Linked DNA regions of Homo sapiens: regions 1, 3 and 4 are each linked to region 2. The links come from fine-mapping of genetic effects on gene expression. A gene starts in region 2. Each other region holds a variant in brackets. All regions are shown on one strand. Distances are between the middles of the regions. Region 1 overlaps COG2 (component of oligomeric golgi complex 2). Region 2 holds the start of COG2 (component of oligomeric golgi complex 2). Region 3 overlaps COG2 (component of oligomeric golgi complex 2). Region 4 holds the start of LOC107985357 (a long non-coding RNA gene).

The links. PIP is the estimated chance that this variant, and not a neighbour inherited with it, causes the effect. A credible set is the group of variants that fine-mapping cannot tell apart.
Region 1: its variant is the best candidate, but not a certain one, in a credible set for the expression of COG2 in whole blood (TOPMed, PIP 0.55).
Region 3: its variant is the best candidate, but not a certain one, in a credible set for the expression of COG2 in thyroid (GTEx, PIP 0.79).
Region 4: its variant is the best candidate, but not a certain one, in a credible set for the expression of COG2 in monocytes (BLUEPRINT, PIP 0.85).

Annotation. Positions count from the first base shown.
Region 1 is chr1:230,692,008-230,696,195 of GRCh38, reverse strand. COG2 (component of oligomeric golgi complex 2) reads right to left here. Exons shown (of 18, transcript NM_007357.3): 18 at 2,214-2,904. The coding sequence ends at 2,803. Among named protein-coding and RNA genes, the nearest start is that of AGT, 20 kb to the left of the region's middle. The variant TG/G (reference allele first, on the strand shown) is at 2,214.
Region 2 is chr1:230,640,240-230,644,444 of GRCh38, reverse strand. COG2 (component of oligomeric golgi complex 2) reads right to left here and starts at 1,964. Exons shown (of 18, transcript NM_007357.3): 1 at 1,767-1,964. The coding sequence starts at 1,838. LOC124904545 (a long non-coding RNA gene) reads left to right here and starts at 3,748. Exons shown (of 2, transcript XR_007066935.1): 1 at 3,748-4,151. RefSeq lists silencers at 298-417, 2,031-2,170 and an enhancer at 1,721-1,940.
Region 3 is chr1:230,682,702-230,686,701 of GRCh38, reverse strand. COG2 (component of oligomeric golgi complex 2) reads right to left here. Exons shown (of 18, transcript NM_007357.3): 11 at 3,067-3,128; 12 at 1,466-1,617. Among named protein-coding and RNA genes, the nearest start is that of AGT, 29 kb to the left of the region's middle. The variant T/C (reference allele first, on the strand shown) is at 2,427.
Region 4 is chr1:230,602,405-230,606,622 of GRCh38, reverse strand. LOC107985357 (a long non-coding RNA gene) reads left to right here and starts at 1,790. Exons shown (of 4, transcript XR_007066934.1): 1 at 1,790-1,959. It overlaps LOC124904544 (a long non-coding RNA gene), which reads right to left. Exons shown (of 3, transcript XR_007066932.1): 3 at 1-442. The variant C/T (reference allele first, on the strand shown) is at 1,660.

The DNA.
Region 1 (4,188 bases), 52 kb before region 2:
ATTTCATCTTTAAGCTTTATTCAATAGTAATTTCTCCAAAGCAAAGCAAATAAAACACATACCAAAGAAAGGAGAGATGTTCTGGGGGAACCATGGACAAAGGCTCTGAAGCCTTTCACTTTACTTAAAGATTCTTGTCTCTTTCCTTTTTCTTTTTTTCTTTGAGACGGAGTCTCACACTGTTGCCCAGGGTAGGGTGCAGTGGCATGATCTTGGCTCACTGCAACCTCTGCCTCCCAGGTTCAAGTGATTCTCCCGCCTCAGCCTCCTGAGTAGCTGGGACTACAGGCACGTGCTGCCATGACCAGCTAATTTTTTATTTTTAGTAGAGACGGGGTTCCACCACGTTGGCCAGGCTGGTCTCGAACTCCTGACCTCAGGTGATCCGCCCACCTCGGCCTCCCAAAGTGCTGGGATTACAGGCGTGTTTCTTAGAAATAGGTGTTATGGCATCAGGGCTGTCACTGAGAAAGGCAGTGTGCTGAGTCCAGGGCCAGCCTGGGGCTTGACAGGGTCAAAGAAATCAACAACTTGCGTTCCAATTCTTGACTGTCAACTTTGTTGTAGTGCTGATTTTAGGGATGAAGAATTATGTAACAATTAGTAAACCAGGCTCTGGAATTATCTTGCTTGGGTTTCAACCCTACTTATTAGTTATCTTGATGACCTAAGCTGTCCGTTTCCTCATCTGTAAAATGAGAATAATAATGCTGGAGTTGGATGGGCTGTTAAGTCATAACCCTCTCCTCCTATGTTCTAAAATAAATGAGAAGGGCAGAGCACTCAGGGAGATGGGGACAAACATTTGGGGTCTATTGATGAAGGCTGGAGTGGAGGAAGTAGTTTACCTCCATGTGGCTACTGAGGTAGCTTTGCACTGGATCGGCTTAGCGAGGCTGGACCTGTGTTCCCCACGACTCCCTTCCTGGGATGGTTTGAGGTTGGCCTTGGTCACAGGAAACAGCTGCAGGAGGTGGGGTGGGGTGGCTGCATGCTGATATGCAGCAGGCTGCTGCAGCCCAGGCTCCACTGCAGCTCTTGCATATTGACTCAGAGCTGCAGGCTCTCCTGCTGGCTTGGGGCGGGAGGCAGGCATGCAACTCCTCCAGCTCCTGCTGGGTCTCTTCCTTCAGCTTCCCTGAATGCTGGGCCAAGTGCATGTGCAGCTTCCTCTGCACATCACCCCATCACTGAAATGGGGAGACCAGGAGGCAGCAAGAGCCAGATGCGGGCTCCATTTATCCCCACGGGTTCCAGTTCATTCTCTCTCCCCCACTGCACGCCCGTCTTTCCTTCCGCTGGCCCCCTGCTGATGGTACCCCACCCTACCACAGCCCTGCCAGGTGAGCCGGCTCCCACACCAGGGAGGTCAAGCCCTGAGAAGAAATCCCTTCTCTGTCTCTCTCCCATGGTTCTGTCACTGACCAAATTTCCCAACAGTGAACTCCAGAACTGGACACTTCCCCCTCCAGGGGCAGGGCCTCCAGTCCTAAGCCCAAAGCAGATGCTCTCTACACAGGGCGCCACTGTCCAGTGTCTGTTACCTGCAAACAGAAAGTGCAAGCCCCTCTTTGTGGCAGGCTGGGGGCTGCGTGGAAGCCCCTGGGGCTCCACACACACCTGGCTCTTGGTGCTTTCACCACTGGGGTTTCCTCTGACTTCTCTAGCCCTCCTCATCCCGGTCTGTGCTAAAAAACTCAAGCCTGCTAACTACAGGACCTGCTCTCATTCCCTACCATTTACTTCCTCTCCCCAGGGCTAACCTTTGAACAAAGAAGGGACTGAGATGCACGGGAATGCAAGACTAAGGACTCAACATAGCTGCTTCCAGCTCCTCATCAGGCTGGGAGGGCCCAAGCCACAGCTAGGCGGGGGCTGCACGGCACTCCATGCTGCCTATGTGAGTTCAACCAACCAACCAGTCTTGGAGTGCCTCTCCCCAGTGCTTCCATCTCTTCTTCTCAGGGCAGTCTTCTTTCCTTCTACCCACATCAGCTTGCCAGGAAGGGCCTGCCGACTCCTAAGGAAGGTGTTACCCCTCCAAGGAAAGGAACTTCCACACATCGAAAGAAAGGGTCAGTGCTGGCCAGGACCCTTCCCATCAGTGCTAAGAGGAGCATCCGCCTGGAAGGGAATGTGTGTCATTACAGGGCATGAGTGACGAGGAGTGCTTCCCTGGTGGGGAATTCCCAAAGAAAACGAGCACACACTCA[TG/G]GGAGACACTTCTTTTATTTAGGAAGGAGGTCTTTCCTACTGGCGCCGGCTCCTGCCAGAGGTCGGGGTGACAGCAGGATCAGAAGCACTGCTCTCACACACAGTGGGAGTGGAGGATGGCTTCCCGCAGCCTCTTTAGAAAGCCCAGGAGTTCTCTTTATTTCAGAGAAGGGCATTTCTATACAAGACATCATTCCATTACAGTCGTCACTTCCAACTACAGGCTCAGGGAGACGACTCTTGATATTCATAGGTATATATTTACTTTAATCATATTTTAGAAATCAGCTCTTCCACACTAAGATTTACAATAAAAATAAAATAATTTGTTCTGTAAACTATAGTAGAAAGTTTCAAATGTCTTAAAAACTATCTTCCATACAATGGAAAAAGGCTTTTGTGTTCTTTTGGGCAAAGAAGACCCAAATACGCTGAGAGAAGACGCATGGGCGTGTTGCTGGAGTGATGCTGGAAGCACTTCTTTGCTACAGACGGTTGCTAAGAGAACAGAGTCACTTTCTCCCCTTCAGCCTGGAAGTCCAACTCTTCTCTTGCTTAAGAATCTAACCTCGGGATCTTCCAAGATGCTTAAGGCTGCTCTGCTGTTGCCTGGTCCTTGGCAGCAGCAACAAGCTCTGCGAGAGCTGAGAAGCTTTTTATGTCACTTGCTTGTAGTCCCAACTTTTGTATCTGCAAAGGCCATGAGAATGAATTATGTTACTGCAATTCAAGCTGAATATGGGGGGGGAAAAAAAAGAAAGAAAATCTTCATCCTCTACTAAACCAGAAGACAGTTCCCTGAAGACTTGTAGGATATTTTTTCCTCTAGAGCAAAGGATTTACTTGTTGTAAAATGTGAGGATTTTGGGGTCAAACACTTAGCATTCTAAGAAGCCAGTATGTTAATTTATCTCAGTTCATCAAATCAGACAGAATAAAAGCCTCTTTTGTGGGCCTAAAAACATTCTAGAAAAGAAAATCCACACTAGAGGAAATAAAAAAGTGAACTTTTAAGTAGAGAATTTTCAAAAAAGTACTGGTCTGTGCTCTTAGTTTCTTAACATATTGCCAAAAACCTTTTAGAATCAGATGAGTTGAAAACACTTTGTTTGGCAAAGCAACTACCGTGGATTATTTTGGTCACCGAGACATGGCACACTACGTTCCCACTTTTGTTTAAAAACGACAATAACAACACACACACACGTATACATCCATACACGCACACACACACACGCACCACACACACGCACAGAGAAAGATCCGGGAAGATACACACCAAGTCTCTGTCAGCATTTTGTGGTTTGTTCTGGGGACCGAGACTGCGGGAGCACCTTTTCCTTCCCCTCTCTTTCCTTTTAGTTCCCTATCCCACTCTCCTTCCTTCCTTCCCTTTCTTTTGCTCATTGGCTCTTCACGTTTCTATAACATACTTTCTTGCTTGTAAAAAGTCTTTGGGTTTTTTTGCCAAATAAAGAAACATGGCAGTTGACTTTTACCGGGATATATCTCTAAATTCATCTCAAAGCAGAAAAAAGTTGAATTTTCAGTGATGATCATGATGTGTAAAAGAAATTCCTTAGTGAGCTAGAAAATCAAGTGTCTTGTTTTGACTGCTTTTTTTTTTTTCTTTTTCTATTAACATTGTATCAGTTCTCCAAAACACCACCAAGTGTCCTCTTGTGGAAACTTTATGATTTCACTTTTTTTCCCTGTGGAAAGGCCTCCCTTGAGGACCTACTACTATGTGCGACGCTTTAACAGTTTAGAAGGCCAGTTTCTGAACATCTAGAGGTTTTATGATACTGTCCTCACAGTATCATAAAATTTCATTTTATGGTGAAATTTCATTTTCACCTCAGTGAAAAATGAAAAGACATTCATTGCACCTTATCCATATCACCTCTTAAGTGATAATATCCACATTACCATTCAACTACGTGCCATGATTCTAAAATTTGTGTTTTATAGGAA
Region 2 (4,205 bases):
ACATAGAAATATAGCCTGGACAAGTGTTCCAACCATCCTTTCTGCCATGGAAGTGCAACTTATATGTAGTTTTATATGTTTAAGGCAACACAAATTGCAAATAACCTTTATCTTCAAGCTCCACCTAAAAAATCAACAAAATTTTACACAGAACAGCTGTTCTATGTATTTTCTTCTATGTATGTTGTCACTTTTATAAGCACTACAAAATGTACCGCATATTCACAGAGCCACGAAATATGCAATTGCTGGCATTCCAGCCACCACCCCAGTTTGCACTCTAAGTTCTATTTTAGAACTTGTATTTCTGTGATTTCACTTCCTGAAGCTGCATTTACCAAAGGCATTCTGTCAACTCAGAGTGGGAAAGGTGGTGGGGCTAGTGAGTCAGAGAAGATGCTGGTGTTGAGCCTTAAGAAGTCAAGAGATGGACAAACTGAGATTATTCTGTACTCTGAGATTCTTGACGTCAACAAGGCCCCTGATCTCCGTGTATGGCCTTTCCTCTTCCAGGGCACCTCTCCCCAGCATGTACCCTTAGCTGTTTCTTTCTACCCTCATTTCAGGGTAGCTCTTAGCCAGTAGGCAAAACGAAGGGTTTCTGGATCAATGAGTTGATTCTGTACATTCTTTGAGACATCCTAATGAAGTTACACCTTTTAGTACAGTGGTCTAATAGGAATATCACTTACAAGAATAAGGTACATTATTCCTGGGTATAGATAAGTCCTACATACGAAAAATGATATGGTCACACTGGAGAAGATACAGATCTACTTTAAAAAAAAACAGCTTTGGAGATGTAATCTGAATGCAAATATTATCAAAAAGAGATAGGCTAATTAATCTAGAAAACATTATGTCACCAAGAAAGGCAGAGTAAGATTTCAACTCACTTGCTCAAAATTGTAGATGTCTACTAACCAGCTAAAACTTTTCGCTTTTTAACACTGAAAGCAGCTACTAAAAGGTGTCAAAAATCCTAGTCCTCAGGAAATTAAATAGAAACATTTTTTGAATGGCTTAAGTGCAGACCCAGAGGGATACACCAAGTAGGAGCAAAGCTCCTCCCAGCTCTCACTCAAAGCCTGGCCATTTTCAAGGCTGTGCCTGATGAACTTTATCATCAGTGAAGTGTTTTCAGTTTATATTTCTTTTCTCTAAGTTTATGACCTACAACTACCAACTTCTTCAAATGCATCACGTAAAAAGTAGAGCAACTTCTTTAAAGAGTAATGGTTTGCTTTGTCGTACTGCAATAGTCGGTAAGAATGTTCTAAGCTTCTAAATATCCCATTCTGGAAGCTTTAGCTGAATGTTAAGCAAAACTTCAGATTAAGTTCTTTTTCTTTCCGACCCGAGTCCCTAGGAAAGTACGTGGGCTTGGAGATTTATTCAACACACACTTAATGAGCTCCAAGGCCCCGGTCCACAAGCTTCTTTCCGACAAGGGGACTGGCAATCTGACTGCACTGCATGGTAACAGGAACGGGTAACAGTGGCTTTGACATGCAGCTCAAAACCACTTGCCCAGAACTTTCAGGCCTTTCCATGTAACACGCACGATTTTACAGAAGTGCTTTCTCCAGGCTGCACCCGCCAAACCTGACGCCAAAAGACTCATTGCGAAGTGCAGCGAGGTCTCGGCGGAGGACCTGACACTGAGCGTGCGCAGGCAGGAGCAGCCGACCGAAGAGACCGCCACAGAGGGCACAGGGCAGAGGCACCCTCATGGCCCGGCTCCGGGGAGCGGACGCCGCGCGCACCTTCATGAACTCGTCCTTGTCGAAGCAGAGCGTGTCCGGCCCCTTGGGCAGGTTCATCCTACTTTTCTCCATCCCGCCGGCCACCGCCTCTCAGTGCCAAGATCCAAGCGAGAAAACGCAGGAGGCTGCGCAGACCGACTCGGCGGCCGCGGCCACCGCCAGTTTCCACGGCACAGGGGGGTCCGCTTCCGCCAACATGGCAGCGCCCGCGCCGCGGCCAATGAACGACGGCACCGCAAGCCGGCCTGCGCCTGGCTCTGGCCAAGAGGGGCGCGGGGGCCGCCGCTGCTGCACGGGTAGGCCGTGCTGCCCTCATGTGGCGGAGGGCGGTACTGCAGCCTCGCGCGGGCTCCTGCAAGGCTGCCCACCTCCCTAGGAGGCGTGGCTGAGCTGCAGGGGTGGGTCAAAAGGGGTGAGCGGGTCTCCCTCCCACCCCCACCGTTTCTACTGGGAAAAATTGTCCTACAACGCTTTTCCAGTGCCTTCTACCCTGAGACTGCTCTGCTTCGTTATGCATGGCCAGAAGTTGGCCCTTTGGTTCTCAGGCCCGTTTTCCAGGTTGGACGTATCACCGTGGTCGCATTCTTCACCTCCCTGTGCGCGGTCACTGCCGCTGGTGGGCGCTAACGCCTCTATGGAGACCCCCGCCCTTAGCCTCTGTCCCCACAGAGAAGTGTAGCGTCTCCTCCACTGGGCTCCGTTACTGGGAACTCATAGGGAAGAAGGTGGTCAGCTAGGCGGCTTTGGGTCCTCTGAGTAGCTCCCTGCTCAACCTCGGTCTCCGTTCCAGGTGGGCAGCCTCTGAGCGCAACTTTGGGTCTTCAAGGTGCTTAAAGGAGTGCCTCGCTATCTGATTAAACACAGCAGACAAATACATGTGCATGCACATTTATTTTTAATTTCAACCAGGAATGGACAAATTTTTGTGTTGTGGCCAGTACTGGTGCAACCAAACCAATTTCTTAGACTGTCTTCCTCCTCCTCCCCCCACCCACCCCAATTTTATTCTGAGACGTTCTTCCTTTATCTCCTCCCTTGCTTTTTTCTCCTCTTGTCCCTTCCGCTAGCTGTAAATACCGTGGTCAAATGATGATGATTCATTTTTCTTCTTTTCTCCTTGACATTCGGATGATTCAAACCACAAACCTCACTTCACACTCTTCATTCTGCAAACCTTTCCTTCCCGCTTCTGTTGAGGAATCTAGGCCTCTCTTCCCAATTTTTCTCCTTGGAGATAAGATTAACGCCATGATGGCCTGTAAAAAGGAATGGGACAGCAGAGGGTAAGACCTCACCATGAGACTTTGTATTTCAAGTATCTCAACTAGAAAACTGGTCACTTAAAAAAAAATGTAGGCGTAGAATCCAAAACGCTCTACTCCCTAGCACTGGACCTAGCAGGCCCTGTTGAAGAGCCTATTTCCTGCCAGTATCTACAGAACAGATGAACAGGATAAGAGCCGGAAGCTAGCTGGAGGATCAAAATATTCTGCCAGAGGAGCGATTGGGAAAAGTACATCCTAAGTCCCTGTTATGTTTGTTTTGCTGGAGGAAATGAAAACCTCATTTTCTGTTTAATTTTTTGTTTTCTCTTGTTATGAAAATTTTCAAGTACACAGAAGTGTGGAGAGCACAAGAACCCCACCCTATGTACTTAGCACCTCGCTTCAACCATCATCAACCTGTCTCCTCTGCCCTTCCCCACCCACCGCATCGAGACCTTCTTTTTTTGTTGTTTTATATATATATATATATACATATATATATATATTTTTTTGAGACGGAGTTTCACTGTTGTTACACATGCTGGAGTGCAATGGCATGATCTCTGCTTACCGCAACCTCCACCTCCCAGGTTCAAGCGATTCTCCTGCCTCAGCCTCCCGAGTAGCTGGGATTACAGGCATGTGCCACCATGCCTGGCTAATTTTGTACTTTTAGTAGAGATGGTGTTTCTCCCTGTTGGTCAGGCTGGTCTCGAACCCCTGACCTCAGATGATCCACCCGCCTCAGCCTCCCAAAGTGCTAGGTTTACAGGCATGAACCACTGAGTCCAGCCCTTTTATTGGAATATGTTTTAAAGCAAATTCTAAACACCATATCATTTCCTATCCCCTAATACCTCAGTTTACGCATCAAAAGAAGAAAAAAAAACCCTGACATTTTGTAACACCTAACAAAACCAGCAATTCCAATAACCAATCTATAGTGGCTCTGAAAGGTGGGCCTTTATCCCAAGGTCACACTGTTAATAAGTGGCAAGTTGCAAACCCAGGCAGCCTGGCTTCAAAGCCCAGTACCAAGGCACGGGAGAGGATGCTGGACAGATGAAACAAAGATGTCTGCAACCCTGCCTTCTCTTTCGAGGCTCTGCAGGAAGTCTAGGTAAGCTGGAACTTGAACTCTTTCTTTCTTCACTGTAATTCCCTTCTGACATTG
Region 3 (4,000 bases), 42 kb before region 2:
TCTAATTTCTGGTGATAAAAATAACGTGAAAAATAAAGTGCCCAAACCACAATAAAATTAATTTTGGGGACATCACAGGTTTTAAAAAAATCAATTATATTAGGCAAATAACATAGCGTAATACATTTGTAATTATAATTAACAAGGGTAAAATATCAAAATCCAAACCTTCAAATACAAAAAACAAAGTGTTCTTTGTGTCACATTGTTTATAAGGGAAAAAAATCAAAGAGAAGTAAGCTAGCATCAAGAAAAGAATGGGATAGAATGGGATAATGAACATTCAGGGCAAAGTGATCTACTAGAGATAAACGGAGAATTCCTGGCTAGCAAGAACGCATGCTTAGCCTAATTGAATAATCGTCCTAACCCCACTCTGTCAGGGGAATCATACAGTGGTCTTCAGAAACAGCTGACAGCCCAGGGTGGTCCACTAAGACCCTTCTGAGCGGAGGAAAGGCAAAAGGGAAACACAAACTAGATTTCACTAGACTCCCATTACCTGACAGGAGCTTTAGTCCAAATAAATCCTCACAACAGCCACATATAGAAGCTGTTTTCCCATTCTCCAGATGAAGACTCAGCTTAATTTCTCCAGGTCCACAGAATTAAAAAGTTAAAGAGCCAACGTTTGACATTAGCTCCAAAGCTGACACTCTTTCCATTAAAATACACTGCAAGAGGATGACTGGGATCCTTTCCTACTCCAAATTACAAAGATTTTACTCAAAGTGTGCTGTTTTCTCCCTGTTGTCTTTTTTATTTTTTAGAACACATCTCCTTTGCATACTCCTCACACTGCGATGACTGGTTTACCTGAGTGTCTGTTACTCACGCTGTCCCCAGAGAAAGGGCAGCACTGCAATCCGAGGTCCCAGCAAGGACCCGCCGGGCTGGTGCTCAGCACAGGACTGGACCAACGCCCTTGTGGATCAAGAATTTCTGGGTTTTTGTAGGGTATTAATAAGTCATCAGAGCATGTGGATATTTAATATATTTGATTATTTGAAAAGGGAAAAGGATATTCAAAAAAAGAATTTTAATACCTTTTTATGTTGATGACAATATCATTTTGTAAACTTCCAAATATTAAGTATTAAAATGCATATATTTTTATTTCTAATCATTTTCATAATCACCTTGAAATTAAAATGAACATCTTTTTCTTTTTTTAAATTTGGAGGCAGTTCAAAGATTCTGGTTTTGAGAAGGAAAAAAATGGACTTGCCAGAGTGGTGCTTTTCAACAAAATAAGTTTGTGATAATAGACACCCCTAAATGCAATGCTCGCAGGAGTAAAAATGAAACACAGACACAGAGCTGGAGACAATCTTGGGAAGTCAGACTACTGTGGTCCTCTGAATTAACCTCTCATGGTATTTACAAAAATCTTAGGGAGTTAGCCTAACATATCTTTAATTTTTATCAGTATTGATTATGGATGAGCTCCACAGCCAGCCCTTACCTCATTGACAAACACAGAGTATCGTGCCAAAATCTGCAGAGTGAGTCTCCACAGGCGATGCACCAGTAATGGCAAGAACATCTCATCTGACCAACACCTCCTAAGGCTGCTCCAAGTTCTATGAGAAGCCAAAAGGCAATACGGACTTTCAGCTAGAGAAAAAACAACAACAACACACATTTAAGGAATTTCAGGCAATTTTAGGCTATAGTCTAATGTGAGACTTCCGATGTACGATTCAAAGGTAAAGAAAATGGCCTTCTGAAGAAAACCATGTGGTCAGCAAAGCTGTTGGAGGCACAGGGATGACGAGTGGCCACAATCCAAGTTCCCTACCACATCCTTCATGCCACGCACAATTTTACATGACACTATCTCCCAGGTGTTTGGATAAACATCAAATACATATAGCATTCAGAAATAACGTTTAATAGGTACTTCATACCAAATCGACAAACATGGGCTGGAGTGGCAATCACTTGCAGAGGTTTAAACTTCAGTTTCAAATTTGTCCTATTTCACAAGAGTCTTCCTCTATCTCAACATACTTCTTATTTTTATAGAAGAAGTTAACTACATATGACCATTTTTGGCAAAGACAGATGAAAACTAACTCTGAGGCTAAAATTGATTCAAAATGACAGTAGACTTAGCTGTATAAAAGAGAGTGGAAATTTAAGTTGAGGAACCTAGATATCAGCACACAGTATTTCAGTGGTCACTAGGAATAAATATATGATACAAAAATTAATGAGGCTGAAAGGGTATGTCAACATGTACTGGTAAGTCCACATACCTACAACTGTTACCTGCCCAACATCCTAGGATGGGCGGCCAGGGCACAGGAGGCCCAGGATGCATGCTCCAGCTGTGAGTCATTCTCAGTGAGACGCAGGAGCACCTGACCCTCTACCATGCAGACCAGTCCTCAGCCTGGGAGGAAGGCAGATCACAGCCAATT[T/C]GCTAAAAAAAACCAGCTGTTCACATAAGCACACCAAGGGGCCATATCCCCTGGACAAGTTATATTCAGGAATGAAAATGAGGTCTGTTTCCTATATTCTTATTCATTTTTCATCTCTATAAAGCAAGAACTCTATACACCAAAACTATTTGGTTTATTTTTACCTTATTAAAAAAAGAAGTCAGGCTGGGTGTGGTGGCTCATGCCTGTAATCCCAGCACTCTGGAAGGCCAAGGGGGGGTGAATCACTTGAGGTCAGAGTTCGAGACCAGCCTGGCCAACATGGTGAAACCCTGTCTCTGCTAAAAATAAAAAAATTAACTAGGCGTGGTGGTGTACACCTGTAATCCCAGCTACTTTCGAGGCTAAGCCAGGAGAATAGCTTGAACCTGGGAGGCGGGGGCTGCAGTGAGCCAAGATCATGCCATTGCACTCCAGCCTGGGCAACACAGCGAGACTCCATCTCAAAAAAAAAGCAAAAAAAAGAAGTCAAACTAAGTGATTTTTAAGGTCCAACTTACTGTATGATTAAAAAAAAAAAACAGTAAAAGTACGCTCAGAATACTGCAATCCAGATGACTTGGTGAACTGAATGAACTCATTTAGGATACCATGCCACTTATCACTTTAAGGGAGTTACCTGGGGCATCTTCCAGGACATCTGTAAGTGCTGCTTCTAAGGATCCCGCTATTTCTCTAAATCTGAGATAAAAACAAGAAGAAGAATTAATGTTTATGACTCTGACAGATGCCTTTCCCTATCCATTCTCTGTTTTTCCTAAGTAACAGGAACTTCCTCTGTCACTCACTGGTAAGTCCAGCCTCGGAATGCCTATTCTCCCAGGCTTTTTTTTTTTTTTTTTTTTAACTGAACAAGAAATCGTGACTAAGCCACTGTTATATAAGGGTTCTCTGTTATTTGCAGCTGGTCTGAATCATAACTTACCCCATGTTTCTCAAATTAAACAAACTGCCAGTTAAGTCTCCATCAAGAAGTTGTTGCTGGTGAGCAGCACCTGATTATGATCCTCTATTCACTTCAAGGCCATAAAACTTTGGTTCCTCCAACCCATCTATCTTAACACCATCACAGGAAGGTAAACGTCCCCAAGCTAAGAAAGCTGCATTCTGTACCTGTGTTGGCAGCTTGAGAAAAATCACAGGAAGTGGCCAGTTAAAACTAGAACTCACTGCTTGGTGCTCTTCTAATCTGTGACCCTCTCCCACGTCCATGGTACTTGCCCTTCGGGTTCTACGGCTGTCTGTACCAGCGCTTCCTAGATGTGCGTTCTTTTTTCCCTGATGACAGCTGGCTCACCTGGCACCTCAGCTCATCCTGTCACAGACTTCTGTTCTAATAATGGATATGGACATGTTTTTATGACTTTGTGAAAGGCAAATGTGTTATATAGTTTTTTTAAGCTAGCTGCTTTTGCAGGCATTGTTTTCTAACTATATAACTCTTGCAATTTCATATATCTCTTTACTAGCATGCTCTTTTGTCACCTGCTAATTGCCTTACTAGTAATGAATTCTGATGCATGCTCAATATCAATTTATCCAACTGATATTAA
Region 4 (4,218 bases), 38 kb after region 2:
AGAATGGAGAATAGGAGTATGACCAGACAGAAGATAGTAGGGATGACTAGTTTTTTTGGGCTCGGCCTAAGTGGTTGGGGTGACTTCGTAAAGCCCTGTTGCAAAAAGTAGGGTAAGGACGAACAGACCTAATAGAATGAAGGGATGTATTAGGCTCATAAGGGTTATTACTGCTCTTCAGAAATATGAGTGAGTTTAAGGGAAGTAGGGGAGAGTACTTGCGGCTTCCAGGAGGAAGAGGAGGGATTAGGCTGGCTGTCCGATGGACACAGCTTTATTCTGGAATGGTGAACCTAGTGGGGAGGATCCTGCAGGCAGACGGCAGTCGGGGTACTATAGAAGACGAGGTAGCATCCGGTCCATCGAGGTTGTAGAGTTTGAGGGGTCAGATTCTTAACAAGAACTGATCATCCAGCTAGGATGTCTCCATATGGCTGGGGATCTGGAGTAGGCAAGAGAAGATTAGCAGCCTGGTGAATTTCCTGTCTAGCCTGCTGGAGGACTGGAAGATAGTCACCTAGAGGGCTGGTGTCTGGGATGAGGTTGGGGCCAAGCAAGAAAGTGTGTCCATATAAAAGTTCAAATGGACCGTACCCTGTAGCATCTCAAGGACAGGCTCTAATTCTGAGAAGAGCAAGAGGTAAAAGTACTGTCCAATCCTTTTTAAGTTGGAGGCTGAGCTTGGTGAGGTTTACCTTTAAAAGACCATTAGTCCATTCTACCTTTCCTGAAGATTGAGGATGGTAAGGGATATGAAGGTTCCACTGAATACCAAGAGCCTGAGAAACTGCTTGGGTGATTTGACTAGTAAAGGCTGGTCTGTCATCAGACTGTATAGAGGTGGGAAGCCTAAACTGAGGAATTATGTCTGACAGAGGGGAAGAAATGACTGTGGTGGCCTTCTCAGACCCTGTAGGAAAGGCCTCTACTTATCTAGTGAAAGTGTCTACTTAGACTAAGAGGTATTTTAGTTATCTGACTTGGGGCATGTTGAGTGAAGCTAATTTGCCAGTCCTGGGTGGGGGCAAAACCTTGAGCTTGATGTGTAGGGAAGGGAGGGGGCCTGAATAATCCTTGAGGAGTAGTAGAATAGCAGATAGAATAGCAGATGGAACACTTGAGAAGTTATTTCCTTGAGGATAGATTTCTACAATGGAAAGGAAATGAAAGGTTCAAAGAGGCGGGCTAGTGGCTTGTACTATAGCATAGCCTGCCTTTGCTGATGTGTGGTGATTAGGCCTGGTGGAACTGCCATCAATAAATCAAGCGTGATCAGGGTGAGAAACAGGGAAGAAGGAAATGTGGGGAAATAGGATGAACATCAGGTGGATCAGAGAGATGCAATCATGAGGGTCAGGTGTGGTATCAGGAATACTGTGGGAGGCTGGATTGAAGTCCAGGCCAGGAACAATGGTAATTGTGGGACTTAACAAAGAGTGAGTACAGCTGAAGGAGCTGGGGAACAGAAAGTATATGCGTCAGGTATGAGGAAGAAAATAGATTTTGGAAGTTATGAGAAATGTAGAGAGTGAGTTGAGCATTGTTTGTGATTTTTAGGGCCTCTAAAATTATTAAAGCAGCAGCAGCTGCTGCACACAGACATGAGGGCTAGGCTAAAACAGTAAGGTCAAGTTGTTTCGACAGAAAGGCTACAGGGTG[C/T]GGTCCTGGCTCTTGTGTAAGAATTCTGACGGCACTAACCATGCCTAGGAAGGAAAGGAGTTGTTGTTTTGTAAGGGATTGAGGTTTGGGAGATTAATTGGACATGATCAGCAGGGAGAGCATGTGTGTTTTTATGAGAATTATGCAGAGATAGGTAACAGATGGAGAAGAAATTTGAGCTTTGGAGGGGGATACCTGATATCCTTTGGAGAATAAATGCTGAAGAAGCAGAAGTGTGTCTTGTTGAGAAGATTCAAAGGAGGGGCTACAAAGAAGAAGGTCATCAATATATTGAATAAGGTGAGAAGCAGAGGGGTGGAAAGAAAGTAGATCATGAGAAAGAGCTTGGCTGAAGTAAATGAGGGCTGTCCCTGAAACCTTGCGGCAGCACAGCCCAGGTAAGCTGCTGGGACTGTTGGGTGTCAGGGTCAGTCCAGGTGACAGCAAAGAGAGGCTGGGATGAGGGGTGCAGGGGAATAGTGAAAAAAGCATCTTTAAGATGAAGCACAGAATAGTGAGTTGTGGAGGAAGGTATTGAGGACAAAAGAGTGTACAGGTTGGGCACCACAGGGTGGATAGGCAAAACAATTTGGTTGGTAAGGCGCAGATCCTGAACTAATCTGTAAGACTTGTCGGGTTTTTGGACAGGTAAAATGGGGGAATTGTAAGGAGAGTTTATAGGTTTTAGAAGCCTATGCTGTAGCAGGTCAGTGATAACAGGCTTTAATCCTTTTAAAGCGTGCGGTGGGATGGGATATTGGCGTTGAGTGGGGTAAGGGTGATTAGGTTTAGTGGGATGGTAATGGGCATGTGATCGGTTGCCAGGGAAGGAGTAGAGATGTCCTATACTTGTGGTTAAGGTGGGGGGATATGAGAGGAAGACGCAAAGGAGGCTTTGGGTTGGGGAGAAGGGTGGCAATGAGATGCAGCTGTAGTCCAGGAATAGTCAGGGAAGCAGATAATTTAGTAAGTGTCTCGGCCTAATAAGGGAACTGGGCAGGTGGGGATAACTAAAAAGGAGTGCTTAAAAGAGCATTGTCTAAGTTGGCACCAGAGTTGGGGAGTTTTCAGAGGTTTAGAAGCCTGGCTGTCAATACCCACAACAGTTATGGAGGCAAGGGAAACAGGCCCTTGAAAAGAAGGCAACGTGGAGTGGGTAGTCCCCGTTTCGATTAAACAGGGGATGGATTTACCCTCCACTGTGAGAGTTACCCAAAGCTTGGCGTCCGTGATGGTCCAGGGGGTTTCCAAGGCGATGAGGCAGCGTCACTCTTCAGTCGCTAAGCCGAGAAGGAGTCAGTCAGAGAGCCTTGGGCCAGAGTTCTCAGGGCTCTGGGAGTGGCTGCCAGGTGAGTTGAACAGTCTGATCTCCAGTGGGGTCCCGCACAGATGGGACATGGCTTAGGGGGAATCCTGGGCTGCAGACATTCCTTGGCCTGGGGGTCAGATTTCTGGCACTTGTAGCAAGCTCCTGGGGGAGGAGGTTCTGGAGGAACACCTGGCTGCTGTGGTTCAGGCATTTGGAAGTTCTTGTGTGCTGGAGATGTGGCTGGGGTTTGTCTCACAGTGGAGGCAAGGAATTGCAACTTTTTTCTATTATTGTACACCTTGAAGGTGAGGTTAATTAAGTCCTGTTGTGGGGTTTGAGGGCCAGATTCTAATTTTTGGAGTTTTATTTAATGTCGGGAGCAGATTGGGTAATAAAATGTATATTGAGAATAAGATGGCCTTTTGACCTTTTAGGGTCTAGGGCTGTAAAGCCTCTCAGGGTTACCACCAAACAAGCCATGAACTGGGCTGGATTTTTATATTTGATGAAAAAGAGCCTAAACGCTATCTGATTTGGGATAAAGAAAAAGGAGCATTAACTTTGACTATGCCTTTAGCTCCAGCCACCTTTTTAAGAGTAAATTGCTGGGCAGGTGGGGGAGGGCTAGTCATGGAAGGAAACTGTAAGCCGGACCAGGTGTGAGGAGGGGAGGTGATAAAAAGATTATAGGGTGAAGGAGCAGAGGCTGAGGAAGAATTGGGACCTAGCTCGGCCTGGTGAGGAGGGGAGAGGTCAGATGGGTCTGTAGAAAAGGAAGATTAGAAAGACTCAGTGATGCTTGGGGTTGGGACTGAGGGAGGGAAAGAAGGAAGATTTGGGACGAGTTGCACTGGGCACAGAGACTAGGAAGGGACTGATGTGTAAAAGAATGCCTGGATGTCAGGCACCTCAGACCATTTGCCCATTTTACGACAAGAATTATTTAGATCTTGTAGGATGGAAAAATTGAAAGTGCCATTTTCCAGCTATTTGAAACTACTGTCGAGTTTGTATTGGGGTCAAGCAGCATTGCAGAAGAAAATAAGGCATTTAGGTTTTAAGTCAGGTGAGAGTTGAAGAGGTTTTAAGTTCTTAAGAACACAGGCTAAGGGAGAAGAAGGAGGAATGGAGGGTGGAAGGTTGCCTATAGTGAAGGAGGCAAGTCTAAAGAAAAGAGAGAGTAGAGACAGAGAGGGAAGGGGTTTGGGGGTTCTTACCCTCCAGAAAAGCTGGAAAGGGGTCAGGGCACA